Linked DNA regions of Homo sapiens: region 1 is linked to region 2. The links come from fine-mapping of genetic effects on gene expression. Tissue or cell type: left ventricle. Region 2 holds a variant in brackets; the other region holds the start of a gene. All regions are shown on one strand. Distances are from middle to middle.

What was found. PIP is the estimated chance that this variant, and not a neighbour inherited with it, causes the effect.
Region 1: TSEN54 starts here. The variant in region 2 is the best candidate, but not a certain one, in a credible set for the expression of TSEN54 in left ventricle (GTEx, PIP 0.65).

The regions. Positions count from the first base shown.
Region 1 is chr17:75,512,452-75,520,451 of GRCh38, reverse strand. TSEN54 (tRNA splicing endonuclease subunit 54) reads right to left here and starts at 3,924. Exons shown (of 11, transcript NM_207346.3): 1 at 3,836-3,924; 2 at 3,542-3,706; 3 at 3,380-3,443; 4 at 3,208-3,291; 5 at 2,797-2,895; 6 at 1,405-1,457. The coding sequence starts at 3,891. It overlaps CASKIN2 (CASK interacting protein 2), which reads left to right and starts at 4,915. Exons shown (of 20, transcript NM_020753.5): 1 at 4,915-5,051; 2 at 6,244-6,741. The coding sequence starts at 6,648. RefSeq lists silencers at 3,686-4,065, 4,456-5,065 and enhancers at 3,850-4,144, 5,239-5,805.
Region 2 is chr17:74,992,861-75,001,004 of GRCh38, reverse strand. CDR2L (cerebellar degeneration related protein 2 like) reads right to left here. Exons shown (of 5, transcript NM_014603.3): 2 at 1,389-1,501. Among named protein-coding and RNA genes, the nearest start is that of CDR2L, 9.3 kb to the right of the region's middle. RefSeq lists enhancers at 6,532-7,031, 7,032-7,533. The variant C/T (reference allele first, on the strand shown) is at 3,777.

The DNA of each region.
Region 1 (8,000 bases), 520 kb before region 2:
ACCACACCTGGCTGATTTTTTTTTTTTTTTTTTTTTGGTATTTTAGTAGAGACAGGGTTTCACCACGCTGTCCAGGCTGGTCTCGTACTCCTGAGCTCACGCGATCCGCCCGCGTCGGCCTCCCAAAATGCTGGGATTATAGGCGTGAGCCACCACACCAGCCTATTTAAGTTAGATTTAAATACATTTAAATTAAATGAAATTAAACATTCAGTCCCACAGTTGCTCTAGCCCCATGTATTAGACATCACAGACACAGAACATTTTCATCATTACAGAAAGTTCTATTGGACAGAGCTGCTCTAAGGGATAACCTCTCATTTGTGTGAGCCTGCCTCTTGTTCAACTCTTGTTTGCAAGTACACTGATTTTGCACAGTGAGTGTGTTCTGTGTGACTCCTCACTAAATGCAAGCTCTGTGAGGGCAGTGATTTTGCTCTTCTGTTCTCAGCGATGTGTACAGGGCCTGACCCCCAGCAAATAATAAATATCGTTGATCATTCTCACAGGTGAACCACTGTACACGTCCACGATTATTTCCTTAGGATAGGTTCCACTTTCAGAAAAGAAAAGATGTAGAGCTGGGCGTGGTGACTCATGCCTGTAATCCCAGCACTTTGGGAGGCTGAGGCGGGAGGATCATTTGAGGTCAGGAGTTCGAGACCAGCCTGGGCAACACAGTGAAACCCCATCTGTACTAAAAATAAAATAAAATAAAAAAATTAGCCAGGCATGGTGGCACACGCCTGTAATCCCAGCTACTTGGGAGGCTGAGGCAGGAGAACTGCTTGAACCCAGGAGGCAGAGGCTACAGTAAGCTGAGATCATGCCACTGCACTACAGCCTGGGCGACAGAGTGAGACTCCGTCTCAAAAAGAAAAGAAAAGATGTGCCTGCTTTAGAGCTTTTGTGACATACTGTAACTGCAAAAGCTGTACCCGTTTCCACTCCAAGTCTGAAGGTCTCTGCCTTTTACCAATGCTGGATTACTAAGGTGATGAAGGAAAAAACATTTAACCTGGCATGAAAAATGTGAAACCCTACTAATGGTAAATTCTTCACCCAGTCCTTCATTTAAGCATACACTCTACATACCTGCCTGCGCACCTACTAAGTGCCAGGCACTGTTCCAATCCTGCCTCTCAGTGCTCACACACACTCAGCTGCAGGCGCAGGTCATCTGAAGATGCGGCTCGAGTTCATAAACCAGAATAAAACAAAATGACCTGGATTCCTCCCAACCTGCCTCTCTCAGAACGCTTCCAGCAGGCGCCCCCAGTCTGTGCCCAAGGAACTGCACTCCAGCCAAGGGTTCCAGGTAAGGAGAGGCCATTTTCTACCTTAGACTAGTCAGCCAGGTCCCAGGACTAGAATATATGGAAGGGGAACAGGAAGGGGATTTACCTTGGTTGGAATCGTCGAACCACATAACCCAACCTCTTCAGGTGGCTGAAGACCTCAAAAGAAAAAAAAAAAATGAAAGCTCAGATGGCCACTCTGGAAAACACCAAATGGTTTCTCCAGACACAGGCCATCCCCACAGCCCTCTCTGCCCCTCCTGTACACCCCCAGATTCTAAACCCTGTGATTAAGGTTGGACCATGCTTCATTACGAACACCATCCCTAAAGATCTCAGGCTCTGAATTCCTGTCCTCCCACTTACCTTACTCGGCACAAATGACATTTAGCCAAATCCAAAAAAACTGATAGCCATGAAACCAGAAAACCACCACGCCCTGAAATACTTGAGTATTTTGATACAAAGCTCATAGGAGTGAAGCTGCCGATCACCATGTGAACAAAATGATGGCAGGTGGTGGGCATCTCTCCAGCCCCACACCTCCACAGATGCCGGTGGGAAGTTTCTGGTAGGGAGCCACATATTCAACCTTGTGTCCCTGCATTCATATCAGAGGAACATAGATAAGAATGTCCCCCATCCTGCTTGATCTCAGCAGGCTTTAGCACAGCTAACCACTTCCTCCTTGAAAGACCTTCTTTTGGCTTCTGTGATGCGACTTTGGTTTTTCTCCTGCATCACCAGACACTCCTCGGTCTGTTTCTGCTTCTTATCTGCCCCCTAACCTACACAGAGAGCCCCAGGGCTCAGACCCAGCCCTCTACTCTGATGGCACTCCCATACAGCCCAGTAGTTTAAATACCATCCATGTGCTCATGGCACCCATATTTACATCTAGCCTTGACCTCTCCTCACACTCCAGACTTGGATTCCAATTGTCTGTCTGCTTTACACTCACTTGGATGTCCAAGAAGCTCCTCAAAATTAACTTATCTGACACAGTTCTTTCGACTGGTCTTGTCCTCCCAAATCTGCTCCTCTTCATTCTTCCCACTCAGAAAATGACAGCACCTTCATCCACTGGTGCATGCCCAAATCATGGGCGGTAATCCTGGGTTCTTCTCTCTCCTTAATCCTGACATCCAATCCATTGGCAGTCCTATCCATTCTTTCTCCAAAATATTTCTGAGATTCATCTATTTTTCACTCACTGCAACTCTACCCACCCCCAACCTGCGACAAGCCCCTAGCTTCTCTCACCTGAATGAACAGCCCAGTCTCTTTGGATTCTCTTCCCCCACCTTATCTTCTGACAGCACTGGGGTCTATGTGAAGCCAACAGGCCACCACCACAATGTAAGCCTCGTGACAGCATAGCCCTCGTCTGCCCTGCAGCCCCAGCATGTGACACTGTGCCTGGCACCTTATGGGTACTTGTCAATACTCATTGATTCAGTGGATGGGTGGCTCCCGGAGGCGGGGTGGTGGCAGATACCTGGTACTGCAGGAAGGTCACAGTGTGGTCGGTCAGCAGCAGCTGGTAAGCTTCCTGGATAGACAGTGGCAGGTCTTGGTGGAAGAGGTGGATGGAGCCCTGGAAGTGGGGCCAACAGCTCAGCTTATGAGCCCTCACTACAGTGCCACAGAGGAATGGGGCAACTTCCCAGCTCTGATACCTCCCCCTCCCCCTCTCAGCAGCGCATCAAGAATGTGGCCAACCAGGAAAGTGGGGCAGCATCACTAATGTGGACTGGAATCCCTGCTCCCTGCAACGTACCACCTCCTGCTTTAGAAGTTTGGTTATCAGTTCTCTAAAGACCGGGTTGTGTGTGCTTTTTCTCCGATAAAACGTGTCCTTCCCGTTCTTTGGTCCCAACTCCTTCCCCACCTCCCGGGCCCCACTTACACACTCCAGAAGATACAAGGCCTCTTCCGGGTGAAGGCGCTGCCGGCCCTGCTCTGAGAAGCCCATGGTCTGCCAGAATTTGCCCTGTGTGGGGCCCAGAGCAAGTGTCACAAGGGAGGGAGGGCAGGGAGGGCAGGGAGGGCGGTCCCCGGTCCCCGAGCCCGCCGCTCACCGCGGGAGACTTCAACTCCACGAAGCCCTCTTCTGGCCTCCACTCGGCAGCCACCAAGCTGCCCCTGGCGAGGAGTGGGGAGGGGTCTGCGTCAGTCCATTCCGGAGACCCCGCGGCCCGCCTCGCCCCCGCTTCCCTTACCCCTGGGCCCGCCCCTCTCACAGGCGCTCCACGCGCTGCTCTGCCAGCAGCTGCCAGAGCTCTTCCCGGCACCGGCGCAGCCGCTCGGCCTGAGCTGCCGAGCCGTCGGGCAGAAAGTCCTTGGGGCCATGCGAGCGCTGGGGCAGCTTCTGCGACCGCGAGCGGGCGGCGAAGAGCTCCCGGGCGCTGGGGGAGAAGGGGACGCGGGGTCAGCGCCGCGCATCGGGGGCCGCCTGGCCGGGTCCCGGGCGCCGGTTTCCCTACCCGCGCTGGCCCCGCGCCCCCGACACCCACTCCGGCCGGGCCGCGCCGCACCTGAGCACGCGCCCCGCGGGAACCTCCACGGCCGCGGGCTCGGGCTCGGGCTCCATCCCGCCGCCGCCTGCCGCTGCGCGCGCCGCCACGCCCCGCCCACCGCCGGAGCTCCGCGCTGCCCTAGTGCCCGCCGATCCGCAATGCCGCGGCAGCCCCGCCCCCTGCACCGCCCCAGCCCGCTCTGCGCCCTCCTGATTGTCCCCGGTCCTAGCGCCCGCCCGGAAGCGCACCCCGACGCCGGGTCTGGGAGCTCAGCCCGCAGGTTGCTGGAGATGCAGAAGGCCCCTCTTTTGCCCCTAGCCCTCCTCGGGGCTTCTCTCCAGTAAAGCCTGAGGAGCCGGCGTCTGGAGTGCAGTGCGAATGGTCACACTTGTGACCGCCCCTCTGCAGCCTCGCGCTGCTTAGTCCCCACCGCCCGGGCTGGGCAAGGAGGGCAGAAGGGCTCAGGGAAGGACGAGCGGAGGGTGTGCAAATTCCGACTTTGCAGGCCGAAGGCCACCCGGGAACTGTCAGGAGCGGTCCGGGGAGGTTCGCCATTCCTTCGGTGTCTTCCGTCCGGTCCCTACGGCTGGGCTCCGAAGCCAGGTTTCGAGGGCCGGGGGCGGGAGGCGCTGTCCGGCCCACGACGGTGCTGAAGCGCCACCTCCGCCCGGCACGAGCGCCTCCTCGAGGCTGGGGTCCCCGCACTGGTGCCGTCCGCTAGGTGGTGCCATTGCCCGGCCGGCGGCTGCGGGTGGGCGACGCCGGCCGCAGACGGGGGGTACTGCAAGTGGGGTCCCGCGTCTTGGTTGCCAACCCCCTTCACATTACGTCTTCTCTCCCACCAGTCAGACCCGGGGTGTCTAGCCCTTGGGTCTAAGTCCAGAGCCCCAGGTCACCTCTGCCCCCGCGCCCCCCGCCCCTCCGTTTCACCTGGGCGCATGCGCTGATCCGGTCAGCGCCCCCGGTCCGGGCGGGCACGAGTTGGGGCGGGATCTGGCGCGGATGGGGGCGGAGCCGCCGGTGCTGACTGACAGCCTGACTGCGCGGCCGGGACGGTCCCTCCGTTCCCGATCCGGCGGGAGGGAGGGGGGAGGGGCGGGATTTCCTGCGGGAGGCGCCGAGCCGGCCTTGGAAAAGGAGAAGGAGAAAGGGGGGCAGGGGGGAGTGGGAGCCACCGTCCTGAGTGCCAGGGACCGAGCAGGGCCAGCCGGACCCCGGCGGGCGGCCGGGAGAGGTGAGGCTGCGGGGCCCGCGCTGGGGGTCAGCGCCCCTGGGGGCGGGCGCAAACTAACTTTTCTTGCGGGGTCGGCGGGCACCTCCATCTCCCCGCTCCTTCCGTCCTCCTCGCGCCCCTTTTTCCATCCTCCGCGTTTATACCTCGGGCGCTTGGCCCGCCCGGCTTCTCCCGCCGCTTTGTTCCCCGGTGGGCCTGGGCTGGGCTGGGCTGGGCTGGGGGGTTGCGAGGCGCTGGAGGGACATTCCGGGGGGCGGGGGAGCCAGCCCGACCCCAGGCACTGCCAAGGGCGCCCTCCGCCCGTGTCGGCCGCGGGCTCCGCGTGGGAGTGCCCCTGGGTTGGGCTTGGGACGTTTGGGGAGTGAGGGGTTCCCGGCCAGGGCCCCAGGCCTGCGCGGATCTCATGCCACAAGACTCTGGCAGTAAATTCGCTGCCACCGAGAAACTGACGTAAGCTTCTCTGCGGTGGAGTCCAGGGTCTGGGCTTCAGGTTCAGGCTTGGGGGGCTTGGGAGCCCCGTTTGTCAGCAGTGCCCCAGCTCTCTCTGTTCTCTGCCCAGCTGCTCCTCCACCCGACACAAGGGGCGAGGGCGGGTCAGCAACAGGTGCTGTGCAGCTTCCCTCTCTAGCAGGCAGAGCCCCCAGAAATGGGGGGCCAGAAGCACTTCATGCTCTCCGTTCACAAAGAGTCCTAGGACTAGGGCATCCAGCCATTAAAGCGAAGCCTTGAAGCCTCCGTAGGGAGGAATCTGGGGGCTGGTGCCTTTGACAGGGAGTGACCCCTGCCCGCCTGCCTGTGCCTGACCCTCCCGGCCCCACCTCCTGGCCCGCCAGTTGTCTGTGGGTGTCGGAGCCTCGGGCTGTGGAGAACAGGCTGCTGGCCCGGCCTGCCCCAGTATGTCATGCTGCCAGGGCCCCTCCTGCCCAAGGTTGAGGTACTGCCAGGTGCCCTGGGGCCCCAGTGACTCAGCCTCCCCCTCCCAGAATGCCACCTCCCCCCCACCAATACTCCTCTCATGCATAGCAGCTTCCTCCCCACTTTCAGTGGCTCAGCATCACCATCGACTCCGAGGGGAGCCAGGGTGGCTTGGGGGCTCCCTGGAGGTCTTGTCCTGCTCATCCTCTGCACTCCACTTCTGGGACCCTTGCAGGCTGTGGCCCAGCATTCGACAGAGGCCCCGTGCTTTTTCCAGAGCCCTGAGACCAGTGCACCGCTGCTGCCTGAGGCCCAAGGGAATGCTGGCTGCTCTCTGGGTGGGCACTGGTGTTCCACAGCCAAGCCGGGAAGATTGGTGTGCCCAGTCCCAGCCCATCCTGGAGCTGTCGGAAGCCACAAGCTGATATCCATCCAGATTTCCATGTAGCCTTCACCCCCTCAAAGATTAGCTTTCCTTCGTGTGGTGGCAGTTCACGGAGCACCTTTGGGAGTATCCCTCAGTACCTGACGAGGAGCCCACTGCCTGGGACACCTGACTTGCTCCCCCGGAACCGGGAGCCCTCCAAGGGGCTGTGGCATGGCGCCCTGACGCCCCAGCTTGGACCCGTTGCCTGCCTTTGCCCTGGACTCCTGAGTGTAGAGCTCAGCCCAGGAGCCAGTATGGGTCGTGAACAGGACCTGATCCTCGCCGTCAAGAATGGAGATGTGACCGGTGTGCAGAAACTGGTGGCGAAGGTCAAGGCCACAAAGACAAGTGAGTACCGGGTGGGACGAGCATCCCGCTGAGGCCGAGCGCTCAGTTCACAGAGGCTTGGTGGGTGGGGGTGGGTCACTGTGATCTGCATATTTGAGGAGGGTGGACTGTCTTGTTCTCAGTAAGAAGTGCCTCTGTGTGAGAGAGCCAGAGAGAAAGTTGGGTCCCCCTTGCTGTGTGTCCTTAGGCAAGTCACTTAACCTCTCTGGGCTGCAGTTTCCTGGCCTGCAAAATTAGAGGGTTGAAGTACGTTCATTCACATTGTTATTGAGTGCCTATAGCTTGTCACCCAGGCTGGAGTACAGTGGCAGGATCTCGGCTCACGGGAACCTCCGCCTTCTGGGTTCAAGCCATTCTCCTGCCTCAGCCTCCCTAGTAGCTGGGATTACAGGTGTGTGCCACCATGCCCGGCTAATTTTTTTTTATATTTTTGGTAGAGATGGGGGTTTCACCATGTTGACCAGACTGGTCTCGAACTCCAGACCTCAAGTGATCCACCCACCTAGGTAGGCCTCCTAGTACTAGGATTACAGGCGTGAGTCACTGTGCCTGGCTCAGGCTCTGTTCTAAGCACTGGATCATAGTAGTGAACAAAACAGACCCAAATTCCTGTCTTCGTGGAGTTGCCTTCTAGCAGATGGTCTTTCTGATGTGTTCTTTGGAGCCATGAGATTTCTGACAGTGGGTTAGAGAAGACTGAATAGATAGAACTTCATCCCTACCCCCAACCTCAAACGCACACATTTCAACCAGAGCACCTCTATGTTCGTGTCTTAAGAGGATATCTATAAGATAGCTGTTTTTTTTTTTTGAGACGGAGTCTTGCTTTCTCACCCGGCCTGGAGTGCAGTGGCATGATCTCAGCGCACTGCAGCCTCTGCCTCCCGGGTTCAAGCTATTCTTCTGCCTCAGCCTCCCGAGTAGCTGGGATTACAGGTGCCTGACACAACGCCTGGCTAATTTTTACTAGAGACGGGGTTTCACCATCTAGGTCAGGCTGGTCTCGAACTCCTGACCTCAGGTGATCCACCCGCTTCAGCCTCCCAAAGTGCTAGGATTGCAGGCATGAGCCACCGCACCAGGCCACGAGATAGCTTTTAAAAAGGGAATTCTACTGCTTAAAAAAAGTTCAACACTCTCTAACAAGTTGCTAAAGTTTCTCTTCCCCTGACATGTGTGTCCTGGTGGGGTGTGGCCAGAGCTCATTTACTGGAGATTTTCACCTAGCCTCGAGACCTGACCGGGCTGTGGGGGATCCA
Region 2 (8,144 bases):
ACCTCTGCCTCCCAAAGGGCTGGGATTATAGGCATGCACCACCACGCCAGCCTCTTTTTTTTTTAAATTAATTAATTTATTTTTTTTGAGACGGAGTCTTGCTCTCTCGCCCAGGCTGGAGTGCAGTGGCGCGACATCGGCTCACTGCAAGCTCCACCTCTTGGGTTCACGCCAACCATTCTCCTGCCTCAGCCTCCTGAGTAGCTGGGACTACTGGTGCCCACCACCATGCCTGGCTAATTTTTTGCATTTTTAGTAGAGATGGGGTTTCACCGTGTTAGCCAGGATGGTCTCGATCTCCTGACCTCGTGATCTGCCCGCCTTGGCCTCTCAAAGTGCTAGGATTACAGGTGTGAGCCACTGTGCCCGGCCTTTTTTTTTTTTTTTAACTTCTAAAATCTTTTTTATGCCCGGCGTGATGGCTCACACCTGTAATCTCAGCACTTTGGGAGGCTGAGGCGGGCAGATCACGAGGTCAGGAGATGGAGACCATCCTGGCTAACACAGTGAAACCTCGTCTCTACTAAAAATACAAAAAAAATTAACCGGGTGCGGTGGTGGGCGCCTGTAGTCCCAGCTACTCAGGAGGCTGAGGCAGGAGAATGGCGTGAACCCGGGAGGCAGAGCTGCAGTGAGCCCAGATCGCGCCACTGCACTCCAGCCTGGGTGACAGAGTGAGACTCCATTTCAAAAAAGAAATAAATCTTATTTATTTTATTTATTTATTTTTAAGACAGGGTCTCGCTCTGTTGCCTAGGCTGGAGTGCAGTGGCACAATCACGGCTCACTGCAGCCTCAACCTCCAGGCTCAAGCAATCCTCTCACTTCATCCTCTTGAGTAGCTGGGACCACAGGCTTATGCCACCATAGCCAGCTAATTTTTGTATTTTTTATAGAGACAAGGTTTCGCCATGTTGCCTGGGCTCAAGTATTTCACCCACCTTGGCCTCCCAAAGTGCTGGGATTACAAGCATGAGCCAGCAGCCCCTTCTCCCCTTCTAAGGACAAGTTTGCTTTGATGTATTTGTCTTCAGCTGAGTGGGGCTTAAAAATGGTGGTTCAGGCTGGGCCTGGTGGCTCATGCCTGTAATCCTAGCACTTTAGGACGCTGAGGTGGGAGGATCACTTGAGCTCAGGAGTTAGAGACCAGCCTGGGCAACATGGTGAGACTTGGTGTCTATTTAAAAAAAAAAAAAATCTAGTTGTGCAATAGGGCTGCCTGAGATAGCTGTGCTATCCTTGTACAGGATAGCACAGTTGTGAACTGTACCAGGCTATTGGGCTAAGGCTGTGTCCGATAAGCTGGCACCTTATTCTAAGTTGCATAAAGGCACACACAGGCCAAGGGGCCCTCGAGGGGTGTGGGCAAGCACATGCAGGGCCCTCACCTCGATCTCCTGCACCTGTTCCTCATTGGTGGAGTACATCTGCTGCAGGGACCCCTCCAGCTCCTTGTTCCTCTCCAGCAGAGTCTTCCCCAGCTCCGCAGCTAGGTGCAAGTCTAGGATAGGAGAAACACGAGCATGAGAACAAAGGCAGAGGACGCCCATTCATGTTCCGAGCATCTACTCTAGGTGACCCCAATGTAACCAAGACACTGGGAGCCTCCAGGCCTGGGAGGAGAGGTAAGCCAGGAGCTAAGCCTTTGCACTGTTATTTCTGCCTGGAATGTTCTTTTTGTGTGTGTCTGTGTGTGTGTGTGTGTGTGTGTGTGTGCAAGATGTAATAAAAAACAAACAAAAATAGGAATGGTTGCTTTCAACATTTTCCAGGTTGTGAAAGTTTTGCCACGATTCTCAGGGGTGTGGTTCTAAGCTGCATCAGTGGAACAAATACAAAATGCTGTCCTCCTCCTAGGCTGGAAGGCAGTGCACCTTCTCCTCTTAACAGCCAGACTAGCGGGTGAGGAGTCAGTGCTGTGCCCAGGCCAAGCTGGAGTGTCCGCATGGCTTCTTCTCTGACCAGTGGGGATTCCATCTACCTTGAGGCATGCTGGCTGGGCCCTGTTTCCACACCAGCGCATGGTGAGACAGCGTAGCTTATCAACAGGCTGCTGGGCCTTAATACTGACAGTGAGTGTGGCGGATCACAGCCAGGAAGGGACTAACACAGATGCCCTCCCAGCCCCACTGCTGGCCTAATTTTAGAATACCACGGAAAAAAGCTTTGATGAAGACAACAGGAAGTCAACACAGCAGAGAGTGGTGTGGACAACCCAGAAGCCAGCCTCACGCACGGAATATTCTTTCCTGATACTTCCAGGACTTGTTCCCTCTTCTCCTTCAAGTCTGTGCCTGTCAACTTCTCTAGATCTTTCCCCAATCACTTGATTCAAAGTCACACTGTTCCCTGCCCTGCAGTCTCTCCCCCGCTTCATCTTTCTCCTTAGCACTTAGCACCATCTAATTTCCCAAGCAAGTTACTCCTTTATCTTTTTCAGCTCCCCCAACTAACTGTGAGCTCATGGGGCAGTTTTTTTTTTCTTTTAAGGGATGGGACCCAGGCTGGGGTGCAGTGAGTATTCACAGGTGTGATCATATGTGCTGCAGCCTTGAACTCCTGGGCTCAACGATCTTCCTCCCTCAGCCTCCCAGGGCAACATAGTGAGACCTCATCTCTATTAAAAAAAAAAGAAAGGTGGTGCAATACGGCTGCCTGGGATAGGATCCCTTGAGCCCAGGAACTCAAGGCTACAGTGTATATGATCATGCCTGTGAATAGGCGTGGGACTATAATATCGGTTGCTGGGACTACAGGAATAGTACAATGTTTTTTTTTTGAGACGGAGTTTTGCTCTTTTTGCTCAGGCTGGAGTGCAGTGGCGCGATCTTGGCTCACTGCAACCTCCGCCTCCCAGGTTCACGCTAACCATTCTCCTGCCTCAGCCTCCCAGGTAGCTGAGACTACAGGCGCCCGCCACCATGCCTGGCTAATTTTTTTTTATTTTTAGTAGAGACGGGGTTTCACCGTGTTAGCCAGGATGGTCTCAATCTCCTGACCTCGTGATCCACCCGCCTCGGCCTCCCAAAGTGCTGGGATTACAGGCGTGAGCCACCGTGCCCGGTACTTTTTTTTTTTTTTTTTTAACTTCTAAAATCTTTTTTATGCCGGGATTACAGGCACCCACTACCACGCCCGGCTAATTTTTTGTATTTTTAGTAGAGAGGGGGTCTCACCATGTCGGCCAGGCTGGTCTTGAACTCCTGATCTCAGGCCTCCCAAAATGCTGGGATTACAGGCATAAGCCACCACACCTGGGCTAAAATTCTTAAATTTTTTTTGTAGAGACAGGGTCTTGTTATATTGCCCAGGCTAGTATTGAACTCCTGGCCTCAAGCGACCCTCCTACCTTGGCCTCAAAATGCTGGTATTACAGGCGTGAGCCACCGCACCTGGCAGGGCAGGGATTTTTATGTTTTGCTCATGAATATCCCCAGGACCCAGGACAGTATCTAGGACAGAATCAGTGCATAATTTGTCTTTTTGGAAGATTAAGTGAGTGATAAGAGCATGGACGGACATAGGGGCAAGGTGCCGTGGGGTGATGGGCAAGGGAGAGCTTCACTCTCCCCGGGAGGCTCAGGCAAATGGACAGCTTTCGAGTTGGACTTTGAAGGGTGGATAGGAGGCTGGGTGCGGTGGCTCACGCCGTAATCCCAGCACTTTGGGAGGCCAAAGTGGGAAGATCACTTGAGGTCAGGAGTTTGAGACCAGCCAGGCCAACATGGTGAAATCCTATCTCCACTAAAAATATAAAAATTAGCTGGGTGTGGTGG[C/T]GCAAGCCTGTAATCCCAGCTACTTGGGAGGCTGAGGCAGAAGAATCGCTTGAACCTGGGAGGCAGAGGTTGCAGTGAGCCGAGATCGTGCCACTGCACTCCAGCCTGAGTAACAGAGCGAGACTCAGTCTCAAAAAAAAAAAAGAAAGAAAGAAAGAAAGAAAGAAAGAAAGAAAGAAAGAAAGAAAGAAAGAAAAGGGTGAATAGGAGCTTGCTGAGAGGCAGAGAGAGCAGAAGGGCTTGCTGAATATTAAAACTGGAAGATGATTCAGAACTTCTTGGCCCAACTTCTTGATTTTATGGATAATGAGCAGGACAGCAGAGTGACTTGCCCATGGTCACCCAGCTGGTTTATGTCCACGCTAGGGGGAGAATTCAGGTATCGGGCTCCTGGTTGGGTACCATTTGACCCTAGTGACATGTGCCCAGCTCTCAAACCTTCTTTCCCTGAGGAGCAGAAACATCCTCTTCCCCCAACAGCCCTGGTGCTTGTACCCTGTAGGATTGGAACCTTCCCTCCCTGACCCCAGTCCAAGGGAAATGAGGACCCATCAGATAGGCTAGGAGGGAATCTGTCTGTTTTTAGGGGGATGTTGTGGGGGATGGGCGGGTAGAGAGAAGGAGTTAGAAGGAAACGGCAGGTACTAAAATCCCTAAAAATTCTCTTGGTGGGTCTGAGTTGTGTGATGATAGCTAGACATTTGGAGTGGATACAATCCTCCCAACAACACACATATGTATATTAAATATATTTATTATTTTTTGTTTCTTTTTTTTTTTTTTTTGAGACGGAGTCTCGCTTTGTCTCCCAGGCTGGAGAGCAGTGGGGCAATCTCGGCTCACTGCAACCTCCGCCTCCCGGGTTCAAGCTATTTTCCTGCCTCAGCCTCCCAAGTAGCTGGAATTGCAGTCGCCTACAACCACATCCAGCTAATTTTTGTATTTTTAATAGAGATGGGGTTTCACCATGTTGGTCAGGCTGGTCTCAAACTCCTGACCTCAAACAATCCACCCACCTCGGCCTCCCAAAGTGCTGGAATTACAGGTGTGAGTCACTGTGCCTGGCCTGTTTTTTGTTTCTAAAACGAGGCAGGGTGATAAAAATATTCTAAAATTGATTGTGGTGATGGTTGCATAACTTTGTGAATATAATAAAAACTGTTGAGTTGCACACTTTAAATGAGTGAATTGTATTGTGTGTTAATTAAATCTCAATAAATCTGTCAAAAAAAAAAAAGATTTAGGCAGCTTAATCCAGAGACGGAGAAGGGTGGGAGAGAGCGGGTCCTCAAAGAGGTCGTTAGAGCAGGCTGAGGCTGAGTTTCACAAGGCTGTTTTCTTTTTAAAATAGCTTTAATGTTTTTCATAAGGCATGATTGGTGTAAAAAAATCAAACAGTACAGAAAGGTTAAAAACTGGTGATTTAGGCCGGGTGCAGTGGCTCATGCCTATAATCCCAGCACTTTGAGAGGCCGAGGAGGGTGGATCACTTGAAGTCAGGAGTTCGAGACCAGCCTGGCCAACATGGTAAAACCCTGTCTCTACTAAAAACAAAAATTAGCCAGGCGTGGTGGCATGTGCCTGTGGTCCCAGCTACTTGGGAAGTTGAGGCAGGAGGATCACTTGAACCTGGGAAACAGGTTGCAGTGAGCCGAGATTGTGCCACTGCACTCCAGCCTGGGTGACAGAGAGAGACCCTGTCTCAAAAAAACAAAACAAACAAACAAACAACAACAACAAACTGGTGATTTAAAAATTAGAGGCCAGGCCGGGTATGGTGGCTCACGCCTGTAATCCCAGCACTTTGGGAGGCCGAGGTGGGAGGATTGCTTTAGTAAAGGAGTTCAAGACCAGCCTGGGCAATATAATGAGACCCTGTCTTTACAAAAAATAAGAACATTAGTGGGGTGTGGTGGCATACACCTGTAGTCCCAGCTACTTGGTGAGCTGTGATTGTGCCACTGGACTCCAGCTTGGGTGACAGAGTGAGACATTGTCAAAAAGAAAAAAAAAAAAAAGAAAGTGTAGACTGGGCACAGTGGCTCATGCTTGTAATCCCAGTGCTTTGGAAGGCTGAGGTGAGAGGATAGCTTGAGGCCAAAAGTTAGAGACTAGCCTGGGAAACACAGTGAGACCCCATCTCTTTTTTTTTTTTTTTTGAGACTGAGTCTCACTCTGTCGCCAGGCTGGAGTGCAGTGATGAGATCTTGGCTCACTCTGCAACCTCTGCCTCCCAAGTTCAAGCAATTCTCCTGTCTCACCCTCCCGAGTAGCTGGGACTACAGGCGCGTGCTACCACGCCCAGCTAATTTTTGTATTTTTAGTAGAGACGGGGTTTCACCATGTTGGCCAGGATGGTCTCGATCTCTTGACCTCGTGATCCGCCCACTTCAGCCTCCCAAGGTGTTGGGATCGCGCCCTACCCGAGACCCCATCTCTACAAAAAAATTGTAAAATTAGCCGGGCATGGTGGTGCATGTCTGTGGTCGCAGCTACTAGAGAAGTTGATGTGGGAGGACTGCTTGAGTCCAGGAGTTTCAGATTAGAGTCATCTATGATTGCAACACTGCATTCCAGTGAGACAAAGCAAGACCCTATCTCTGAAAAAAAAAGAATGAAACTAATTAACTTTGTTGTACAAAACGTTTTGTGCAAATCACCGCCCAATTCCTTAGGACACAGAATTCCTTGAACAAAGGGTAAGCCTAGGTACCTGGAACAAAAGGTAGGCCTAGATACAGAATTCCTAGAAATACAATTCCTGGGACAAAAGGTAGGCCTTCTTGAGGCATTCTGTCAAAAGACTGTCCAGGAAAGCACTGGTCTGTTTCATTTTATGAGGCTGCTTCTTAAAACAGCTCTCAATCTAGGCTGACGATGTAAATCAGATCAAGATGCATAAAGGCAACTCTACTGGGGCCAATATGATGTGGTTCAGGGATCCAGTTCTCTACTGCTTTCCCTTTTTAGACATAGTGATAGTTCTAGGGTCTCTGGAGGACGGATAGGCTCTATACTCCCGGACAGAAAGTTTCCTAGATACGGTTGTTTCGGCTGAGCCCTTGCTATGCATTGGACAGAGGCCTGAGAAATAATAGCTGGGGAGCCCAAGGGATGTCTTTGAAAAGAAACCTAGACCTGGGGTGGAAGTTTTCCTTTGGGATGAGCCCAGGCAAGCAGTGACTCTTGGTGGGCAGCTGAGGGCAGAGCCTTGGGCCTTCAGCCAAGCTGGGGGCAGAACTGACATTGCCTTGTGAGAGGCAGAGGGGCCAGACCAGCCACTGGGCCTGGACATAAAGGCTGAACTGCCCCACAGGAACAAATCCGGAGTCTGATCCTGTGCACAGAGGTGAGGTTTTGAAACAGCCAAAGTGGAGCCTCCAGGGCTGGGTTTTAGCCAAAGGAGGGCCCTGTGTCATCTGGAGAAGGAGTGCAAAGCTGCTATCCTAGAGCAAGGCTGCAGTAACTTAGCCTGAAAAAACAAAGGCAGCTTTCCCAAACATCTTCCTCAGCCATTGAAAACAACAACAACAACAAAGAAACCAAATCATGTAAATCATAGGTAAGAACTTTTAGCCTTGAGCAATTAACCTTCTGATGAGGATGCCAAGAAAAAACTAGTTACATAACATAAACCTAGTAAGGGAATGCGGATATATGCTGTATGAATTTATGACCTGTCAGTTGGGCAAAAGTCTGGAGGTATCTACAAATTGTAAAGTTTGATGTAAAGATCATTGCACTGGGCAACATAGTGAGACCCCTGTCTCTACAAAAAAATTAATTAGCTGGGCGTGCTGGTGCTTACCTGTAATCTCAGCTACTCAGAAGGCTGAGGCAGGAGAATTGCCTGAACCTGGGAGGCGGAGGTTGCAGTGAGCCAAGATTGTGCCACTGAACTCCAGCCTGGGCGATGGACCAAGACTCTGTCTTGAAAAAAAAAAAAGATTGAACTACAGCCCTGTACTATATTGTGCGCATGGCAGTAACTCAGGACTCAGGAGCCGGGCAAGATCACCTTCAGTTTGTGATGAGACAGCCATGCTATCTTCCTGTTTTCCATAGTGGGACTCAAATTTAGCTCATCCTGAACAGTATCCAGCAGTTCAGATATACATGAAAGAGATCAGAGGGCTACTCTCCTAAATGTTTTCCCCCTTGGAAACTGTTACATGGTCTGCAAAGAGGCCATTGCTACTGATTCTACCTCCTGCCGTGGGTGTCGGAGGACATGCTCCAAGTAAGTGGCCTTCATGGAGCCCCTGCAGCTTAACTAGAGTGCAAAGCCACTGCATCAGAGGTGAGTGAAGAAAGGCCAAGTGCAGTGCAACATCATACCCCCCACTTCCAGGTTAGTGTCTGGGCTGT